3 separate regions of the Homo sapiens genome follow, and all the other regions are linked to region 2. Evidence: fine-mapped expression QTL. A gene starts in region 2. Each other region holds a variant in brackets. All regions are shown on one strand. Distances are from middle to middle.

Region 1 (2,760 bases), 99 kb after region 2:
CTTTCAACAGGGCCAGTGGTATTCTATTTCCAAATGAGTACATTTCTTAATGGAGAAATTCTAAGTAAGTTTGTTATGCTCCTAATCCTGCTTTAGGAGAGCTCTAATAACATAATTATAGGGTGCCTTGGGAGCAGCAAGTCTGTAATCTTTTTTTTTTTTTTAACTTTTTGCCCCAATTTTCCTCTCTAGTAATTTTGAGGTAAAACATCCAGATGTGGATATTTAAAATTCATCTCTGATGTCTCCTATATTTATCAGTGTTATTATCTGAGTGTAAGTTAGACATTACTGATAAATGAGCCAACATGGAGTTTTTTTTTTTTAAGCATTAATTGAAATAATTTTATCAGGTCAGGTTTTTTTAAAAAATCAAATTGGTTCTCTTTTCTGTGACTTAAGTATTTTATCTCCTGCCACTTTCTCCTGAAAGTTCTGACCTTGGATACAGAGTTTTAAAATGTGATGCCTCAAGTGAATTCTACTTTTGGTTTATAGTATTCCGGAATATGTGAGTACTTAAAGTATATTCTTAGCCTACATGAATCTCACATCTCTGAATATTTGACATTTTTAGAAGTCCATTTATGTCCATACTTTATGAATTCAAAGTTTATAGCCTCACTCCCTCGACATTGATAGATATATAAAATAAAAGGGTGTGAGATTCAGATAAGGCTTTTAAGGCACCCTGTCTCTAACTTAAACATTTTGCTTTTCACCTAGTGATTTTTTTACCATACTTTTTGGACCTATGTTTGAAGAGCTGTTCAAACTATAATGTTCTGGGGGCAAATTAAGTTTTCAAGTAGGATTTTGTTTGAGTTGAAGAATTAAATGGCTTTTTAAAAGTTTATAACATTCAATGAGGATGAATTTCTTATTTAAAGAAAATAAATCTTACCTAGTAGATTATGGGTAGGCCTAATTAGACAGCAGGGATTTCTCATTCAAGTAATAGACTGATAAGACTGTTTTCTAGCTAATAACCTATGAAATGGATATTTGCTACGTTAACTGGGTCAAGATTGAGATCAGATTCTTCACTTTCTTTATATCTAGGAAAATGAAAAGAAACTCTTAACTTAGTATTAATTGAGCACTGAACTACACACTCAGGGAGAATCTAGAAATGTGAAAGACACAGTTTCAGTCCTCAGATAATATGGTATAGTAGAGCAGGAAAATAGTTAAACAATCACAGTCATACACTAGGTACCCTAAGTATAGTATAGGGAAAGTTCACAGTGAAGTGTAGAAGAGAAGAAATACAGAGATCCCTCCTAACTTGGATGATTAGGTGACTTCAAGGAGAAGGTAGCATTTGT[A/G]ATGTGTTGAATAAAGGAAAGAATTCATTAGGAAGAAGAACAGTGGAAGTCAATACTTCCATTGGATGAAGTAGATCGAGCAGGGCTAGAGAAGTGCAAGTTGTGATCAGAGAATGCTGCAAGAACCTCATAGGCTAAAGCATGAGGTAGTAATGGCAGATAAAGCAAAAAAAATTACATAGCAGCAGACTATGGAAATTTTGCAGTACCAAGCCATTTTGACCTAAGTTAGGAGTCAGTACATTTTCTCATCATTGCCCATTTTGTTTACACAATTTTTTATAAAAGTGTTTGTTTTGGATCTGGGTTCACATTTTACTTTGCCTACCACTTACTAGCTATGTGACATTACGAAGCTCGTTTAACTTGAGCTTCAGTTTCCTTGTTGGTAAAATGGGGAAAATACCTCACACGGTTGTGACAATTAAATAAAATAACATAAGAGCATGCAGTACAGCACGCAGCACGTAGTCGGCAACTGTTTTTTGGAAATTATATATTTATTGCTAATTTGAAGTACATTATGCTTTTGTGGCAACACTTGAAGATTTTAATTCCTTAGACTGTATTTTGGTTTTTTAAGGTCTTGAATCTGTTACCCTGATGGCATTCTGGTTTATTCATCTTCACAAAATTTAACAACTACCACTACCTCCTCTTCTATGCTCTTCTGTATCTGAGAAAGAAGACATAGTTTATGCCATGGTTTTGTGTATATGTTGTTTGATCTTCTAACCAGTTCTTCTCTAGTGGAGACTCCAGGGAACTGTTGGCTAATCTGACTTAAGCCCAGTATGTGGCCACACCACCCTGATTAGAAATCAAGTTTCTCATTATGCTTTGATGAATTCTTAGCTACAAGAGGGCAAGTACTTAGCCTGGTATTCCAGGATCACCATAATCTGCCAGTATATATATATATATTTTTGCTTTATCTGCCATTGCAGTCTAATGCTCTAATCTAGCCTAAGAGGTTTACTCAACATTTCAGATCACAACATGCCTGCTAGCTTATTAGTTGTATTTGGTTTCAGAGATACAATCCAAGTCTGAATAAAATTAGGAAAAGAACTTGTGCTCAGTTGAGGGTTCCATATTTGAATCTTTATTCCATTTACTTATTAGCTTTATAACCTCGAGCAAGGCATTGCCTATCTCAGGACTTTGTGGTGAGACTCAAATATATCAACTATAAAGGATTATTAACATTGAACTTTAGTAAAAATATGATTAACTACCCATCTCAAAGATAAATAAAATTTTTATCTTAATATTTTAATGAAAGCTCAATAAATTTACTGATAAATTTAAAAAATCAGCTGAAATTAGTAATTAGTAATTTTTTATATTAGTCTTATATTAGTAATTTTTACACTTACTGTTTTATGACTTAGGTGATTATCTGAACAATATTTGAGAAACATTTGAAACA
Region 2 (2,760 bases):
TCTACAGCCTTAGTCCAGTGGAGAGAGAAAACGATAAATGCATCACAGTTTGTGTCAAGACAAGATTCATTTTCCACACTTCATATGTGGGAAGAGGAAACTACATTTTAATTAGCACATTTTTAGGGAGGAGGGGGGGGATGAAGATGAGGCGGATGGCGTGAGGTATTTGAGGGGGACGAGTCTGCAGATGAGGAAAGGAAATGAAGTGGATTGTCGCCAGTGCCTTGGAAACGAAGGGGGATAAGGGTGGGGAACGAAGTTTGTTGTGTGTGTTAGGGTGGGGTTGGCCCAAGGGACCATGAATCATTAGAATGGCGCTCGGAGGGGTGTGCTTGCAAGTGTACTGGTGCAGGAGGGACGTGGAAGTCGTGGGTGGCAGAGAAAAGTGTGCACCGCTGGGAGGTCTATTTCAAGAATAGGTTGGGATGAGAAACATGTCTGGGCGAGGGGGGTGGGAGGCCCGGTGTCACCTGTGGATGGATCCACAGCCCTGCAATTGCGTGTTGCAAAGTTTGCCCGGCCCCGCATTCATTTTGAAGGTTCTTGGCGATGCCTCGACTTTTCGCCTCAAAGAAGTGAGCTCTCATAAGGTTCAGAGGCCGGGAGCCAAAGCGGGAGTGAAGACTCTCGAGGGGTCCAAATGAAGCAGAAGCGAGAGCCCCTGTCCTCCCCCTATGTGGAGGTGAAGCAGGGGTTGTGGGGACTAGGCGCCCGCGAAGGCAGCTGTGCTGAGAGCAAAGTCCAGGCCCCACGGGGGGCGTGCGGAGGTTGAACCTTTGCAGTGGCCTCCTACAGCCCCAGCAGCCAGCGTGGGCGGCCGAGGCTGACTCAAAGCGGCGGCTCAGCCTCGGGAGTAGGAGTAGGGGGCTCGCTCATTTAGGGCGGGAGACATTTCCGAGGCGCCCCTCCTCCCCTTCGCGGTCGGGTTTCTATCGGGGTCGTTTCCCCCTCTGGCCCTCCGGGGACGCCGCGGATTCGAGCTGCACAGTCAGAAGAGGACGTTGAAAAGGCGCCAGGCAGCCGCCCCGAACCAGGCCCTCCCGGCTGCCGGGCCTGCAGGCCCCCACCGCTGCGGCTTCACGGACTTAGAGCTTGAGGGCGCGGAGGGGGCTGCGGGGGCGGGACCAGGACTCCCGAGGGGCGCTCGGGGCGGGGCCAGAGAGAGCTCGGGGCTGCCAGAGGCGAGGTCTTGAGGAGGCGGGGCCGGGAGGCTTCGGAGCCCAAGAGGCGGGGCCAGAGGCGTAGGGGGCTGCGAGGGGCGGACCTTGGGGGCGTGACCGGGGGGGGCGCTTGGGGACCTAGGGGCGGGGCGTTAGGGGGCGGGACCAAGGGACGCTCGAGGGGCGCTCGGCTAGTCCCGCCAGAGCGCGAGCCGCCAGCCCGTAACGGTCGCCAGTGTGAGGGGCGGGAGGGAAAGAAGAGGGGTTTAAATTAGATTTTTTAAAACACAGAGCAAGCGCCAGAGGCGTCGGCATCCCAGGTGTCGCCGCTTCCTGCTGCACAGGGCTCGGCGTACAGGTCCCTCCCTCCTCAAGCCCCCTCCCCTTCTCCCGCCCTACCCTCTGGGGCTCTGCGGCGCTTAAGAGGCGGCCGCAGCGGCGGATCCGGCGGCTGCTGCAGCCCGGGCGGCTGCCGAGAAGGAGGGAGGGGAAACACAAAGCCGGCTACGCGCTGCGAGGTAATCTTGCGGGGAGAGGACGCGCCGTCGTCCCGCCTCTCTTCCGGGCCGGGACGCGGGCACCCGCGCGGGGGCTAGCACTGGGGACGCTACTGGGGGTCGCGCGGGGGTAGGGAGCGGCGGCTGGCGGGGCCAAGGGGACTTCTCATTGGCTGTCCCTGCGGCCTCAGGTGAACCCTTTTCCGGGGCGGGAGTGGGGACCACGGCCAGGCCAGAGGGGAGCGTACCTGCGGGGGAGGGTCCGGGGGTGGCGGTGCACGGCCTGCGGCGCCGCCGGGTGGGCCCGACGCTTCGCGCGTCTGCTGGTTTTCCCTAGGAAGGCGGGGAGTACCAAAATCAGTTACTGGCTGAAGCTTAGGTGACCCCGGGGACCTTAAGCCCTGAAGGTGCGCTCCAGGGGAGTGAGAGGTTCCTGCGCTTAGAAAAGGTGGAGGAAAGGGAGCGAATGTTGGTTTTAGTTGTTTTTCTCCTCATTTAAAAAAAATTTTTTTTGTTACAAGTTGAAAGTGTTCAGTCACCTTTCTCCTATAATCCGCTTCCCCACCCCCCAACACAGACACACACAAACACACCGCCCCTACAAACGTATACATGTTAGGTTGAGCTTCCTGCTAGGGGTGACAAGCGAAGTTGGCAGCAGGTCTGGTGTGCTGGTGTTTGGGGCACGTCCAGCCTCTTTGGAGGTAGGCTATTATAGCTTAGGCAAGACCACAGACAGGTAGCATAATCTGGGCCTCTTTTAAAATGGCAAGAACGGCTTCAGGTGAACTTTTTTGTTGCAGAGATTTAATTGCAAGTAGGTGCCGGTTGAAAATGGGAGCGCAAGGAAAACCACTAATTTCCTTGGCACATGTGCTGTTGCAATTAACCTGGTAGAGTGTTAAGGAATTTAACTTAGCCAAGAGGCTTTGAGGGAGGATTATATGCAAGTTTGGGGAAGGAATTGATAAGATTCTGGGGTATGGGACTAGCTACATACACGTGCGTGCAAGTTTACGTTAAATTATGTAGCATTTTAGATTTAGCAGTATTAAATGGTTGCTTTTCTTGGAATGGCTTCTGACTACATAGTGCAGGGT
Region 3 (2,760 bases), 140 kb after region 2:
AATTTAAAATAACAATACACATTTAATATATCTCACAGTCTTGGGGGGTCAGAAATTCAGGAACATTCTGGCTTGGAGTCTTTCAAGAGGTTGCAGTTGAGACATCAGCCAGAGCCACAGCCATTTGCAAGCTTGACTGGGGCTGGAGGGTCTTCTTCCCGGATGGTTGGCAAGTTGGTGCCAGCTGTTGGCGGGACCTTAGATGCTCCCCGTATGGGCCTCTCTGCAGGCAGCTTGAGTGCCCTCGTGACAGGCAGCCCCTGCGGCAGACAATCCAAGGGAGAACAAAGCAGAAACCACAGTGACACACACTTGCACTTCAGCCACATTCTAATCATTAGAAGCGAGTCACTAAGTTCAGCCAAATCGAAGGGGAGGGACACTAGTTTCCACCTTTTGAAGAAAAGAGTGTCAAAAAATCGGTGAACATGTTTTAAAACCACCATGGGTTATAATAATCAATTATTCAATATCAGATTAGTCAAGTGGGAAAATGATGGAAAGGTGCTTTCAGAAGGAGGGAACAATGACTGAGTACCTTGTGTGTCCTAGGCTCTGTACTTCACATACATTATTGTGTTTAATTTTTTTTTTTTTTGACAGGGTCTCACTCTGTCCTCCAGGCTGGAGTGCAGCAGTGCAATCTCGACTCACTGCAACTTCTGCCTCCTGGGTTCAAGCAATTCTCATGTCTCAGCCTCCTGAGTAACTGGGACTACAGGCATGTGCCACCACTCCCGGCTGATTTTTGTATTTTTAGTAGAGTCAGGGTTTCACCATGTTGGCCAGGCTGGTCTCGAACTCCTGACCTCAAGTGATCTACCCACCTTGGCTTCCCACAGTGCTGGAATTAAACGGTGAGCCACCATGCCTGGCCTGGGTTTAATTTCATGAAAACTTTTTCTCAGTTTTACAGATGAGGAAAGTGAGACTAAGTGGAGATACGGCTTGTCCGAGGTCACATCACTAGTGTCAGAGTATGTCAGGTACATAGCCTGAAGCCACAGCTGTGCCATCACCTACCTCAGTGGAAAATGGAAAGCATTCCCAAGTATGTGCTACCTTGACTTATCTAAGCCATGTCCATTTTGCCACCAGGGAGAATTGTGATCAATACCCCCAGCTGAGTGAATTCTAAAAGAGCTGTTTAATTTGCCTCTAAATGCTCTGGATCTTAACTCCCCTTCAAAGCACCTCTCCTGCTTTCTGCCATTGCCAGTATTTGCCCAGCCCAGGCAGCGCCATGCCTGTCCTCACCCCTGACTTTGAGAGTCAGCCCACTCCTCTTCCCACTACAGCTGGCTGCGGTCTGGAGGCCAGTGGGGTCAATGAAGCAGGGTGGCACGGAGTGCAGGGGTGAGAGGGCAAAGCCCTCTGTCTAAAGGGGACTGAGCCAAGCCCAGCAGGGCGGAGATAGGATGGCCCATCTCTGCCAGTTCCATGCTGGACTGCAGAGGCCTGATAAGGCCAGGGAACCACCCACCCAACTATGTCTCCTCTTCCAAATAGAGGAGACTCCCCACACTGCTCTCCCCGCCATCGGTGGCTACATGGATGCTTTCCTCCAAGGGTGGCTGGCTGCCTTTC[T/C]CCACTGGGAGATGGAACGTGATCCGGGGCATGACCAGCTCTTTGGGGTGACAGGTCAAGTGGCTGAGGTCTGTGCTGGGAGTTCCCGCCTCTCCTACTCCCCTCCCTTCTCAGCATCGGCCAGTCCTGTCCTTCCAAAAAACAAACTTTCTGTTGGATTCTCTACTCAACACTGTCCCTTCTCCTGGGAGCTCATACCTGGAGAACTGCCGGAATTCTGCTCCACTGGTAGTCTCATCTCCTAAGGCACATTTTCTTGGCAGAAACCGTTCCTTGGGTTGGAAGTTTGAGGAGCCAGTGTTACTGTTGGAACCAGAGCTGGAGTAAGAAGCAGGTCAACAGCTGTTAGCCAGCGCTCCAGACTGTAAGGGACTTAAAATCCATTCTGATAAAGGTGGAAGGGATGAAAAACATCAGCTTCCTGGAATTCCTCGTAGGAACTCTACTGTCTGTGGTTGAAAGAATACTATAGCTGGGCGCAGTGGCTCATGCCTATTATTCCAGCACTTTGGAAGGCCAAAGGGGGTGGATCACTTGAGGCCAGGACTTCCACCAGCCTGCTCAACATAGCGAGACCTCGTCTCTATTAAAAAAATTTTTTTTTCTAAAAAAGAAGACTCTGATCAAACACTCTGAGGTGGAGGAAGGCATTGAGACCTCTAGCATCCATTGGTTGCCAAAGATGACAATCTGGTTAACAGCAGGGCCTTTCTCTCTGGGTGTGGTTGTGTGTTAGAAGCCCATTGCCACTCCCACCCCACCCTACTTGGCCCTCCACCCCTCTCTCTGTGCTCAACCCCTCTCTAGAAAAAGAAGTAAGAGATATTGAGAGGGTATCAGCAGGCCAGGACACCAAGTTGTTACCTCAAATAGAAGGACCAGGTCTCAGCCCACCCTGGCTGGAGCAGCGCACCTGTGGGGCAGGCCGCCCTCCGAGTAGGGGCTTTATGGGATGGATCAGAGCCACCACTGACTGGGATAAAGGGAGACTCTAGGGGGACCAAGCCTATAAACTAGCTGCCCTGCCAGCTGTCCGCCTTCCCCTCAGACCTGCATGCTGGCTTTAGAGCCAGTAATTCTACTGGAATTTTTCCTGTCCTCTTAGATGGGGTTTATCCCTCACTTGAAAGAACCCGGGACATTTGACATTGATGAACAAAGCAGGGGAGTCCA

Alleles and levels. Positions count from the first base shown, and alleles are read on the strand shown. Sizes are in standard deviations (SD) of each study's normalised expression. Not every link is listed here.
With allele G in place of A in region 1, the expression in stomach of the gene that starts at base 1,366 in region 2 is higher (small effect, 0.28 SD a copy in GTEx).

The links. PIP is the estimated chance that this variant, and not a neighbour inherited with it, causes the effect.
Region 1: its variant is fine-mapped to the expression of ADD3 in stomach (GTEx, PIP above 0.99). The same link has a PIP of 0.9 or more in aorta, atrial appendage, left ventricle, sigmoid colon, subcutaneous fat and tibial nerve.
Region 3: its variant is fine-mapped to the expression of ADD3 in whole blood (TOPMed, PIP above 0.99).

The regions. Positions count from the first base shown.
Region 1 is chr10:110,105,990-110,108,749 of GRCh38, forward strand. All of the region lies in intron 2 of ADD3 (adducin 3), which reads left to right. Among named protein-coding and RNA genes, the nearest start is that of ADD3-AS1, 99 kb to the left of the region's middle. The variant A/G (reference allele first, on the strand shown) is at 1,329.
Region 2 is chr10:110,006,619-110,009,378 of GRCh38, forward strand. ADD3 (adducin 3) reads left to right here and starts at 1,366. Exons shown (of 15, transcript NM_016824.5): 1 at 1,366-1,681. It overlaps ADD3-AS1 (ADD3 antisense RNA 1), which reads right to left and starts at 1,763. Exons shown (of 5, transcript NR_038943.1): 1 at 1,563-1,763. RefSeq lists enhancers at 11-566, 567-1,120 and silencers at 949-1,378, 1,689-2,098.
Region 3 is chr10:110,147,927-110,150,686 of GRCh38, forward strand. It overlaps LOC105378479 (a long non-coding RNA gene), which reads right to left. Exons shown (of 3, transcript NR_164121.1): 2 at 1,786-1,905; 3 at 1-260. Among named protein-coding and RNA genes, the nearest start is that of MXI1, 58 kb to the right of the region's middle. The variant T/C (reference allele first, on the strand shown) is at 1,588.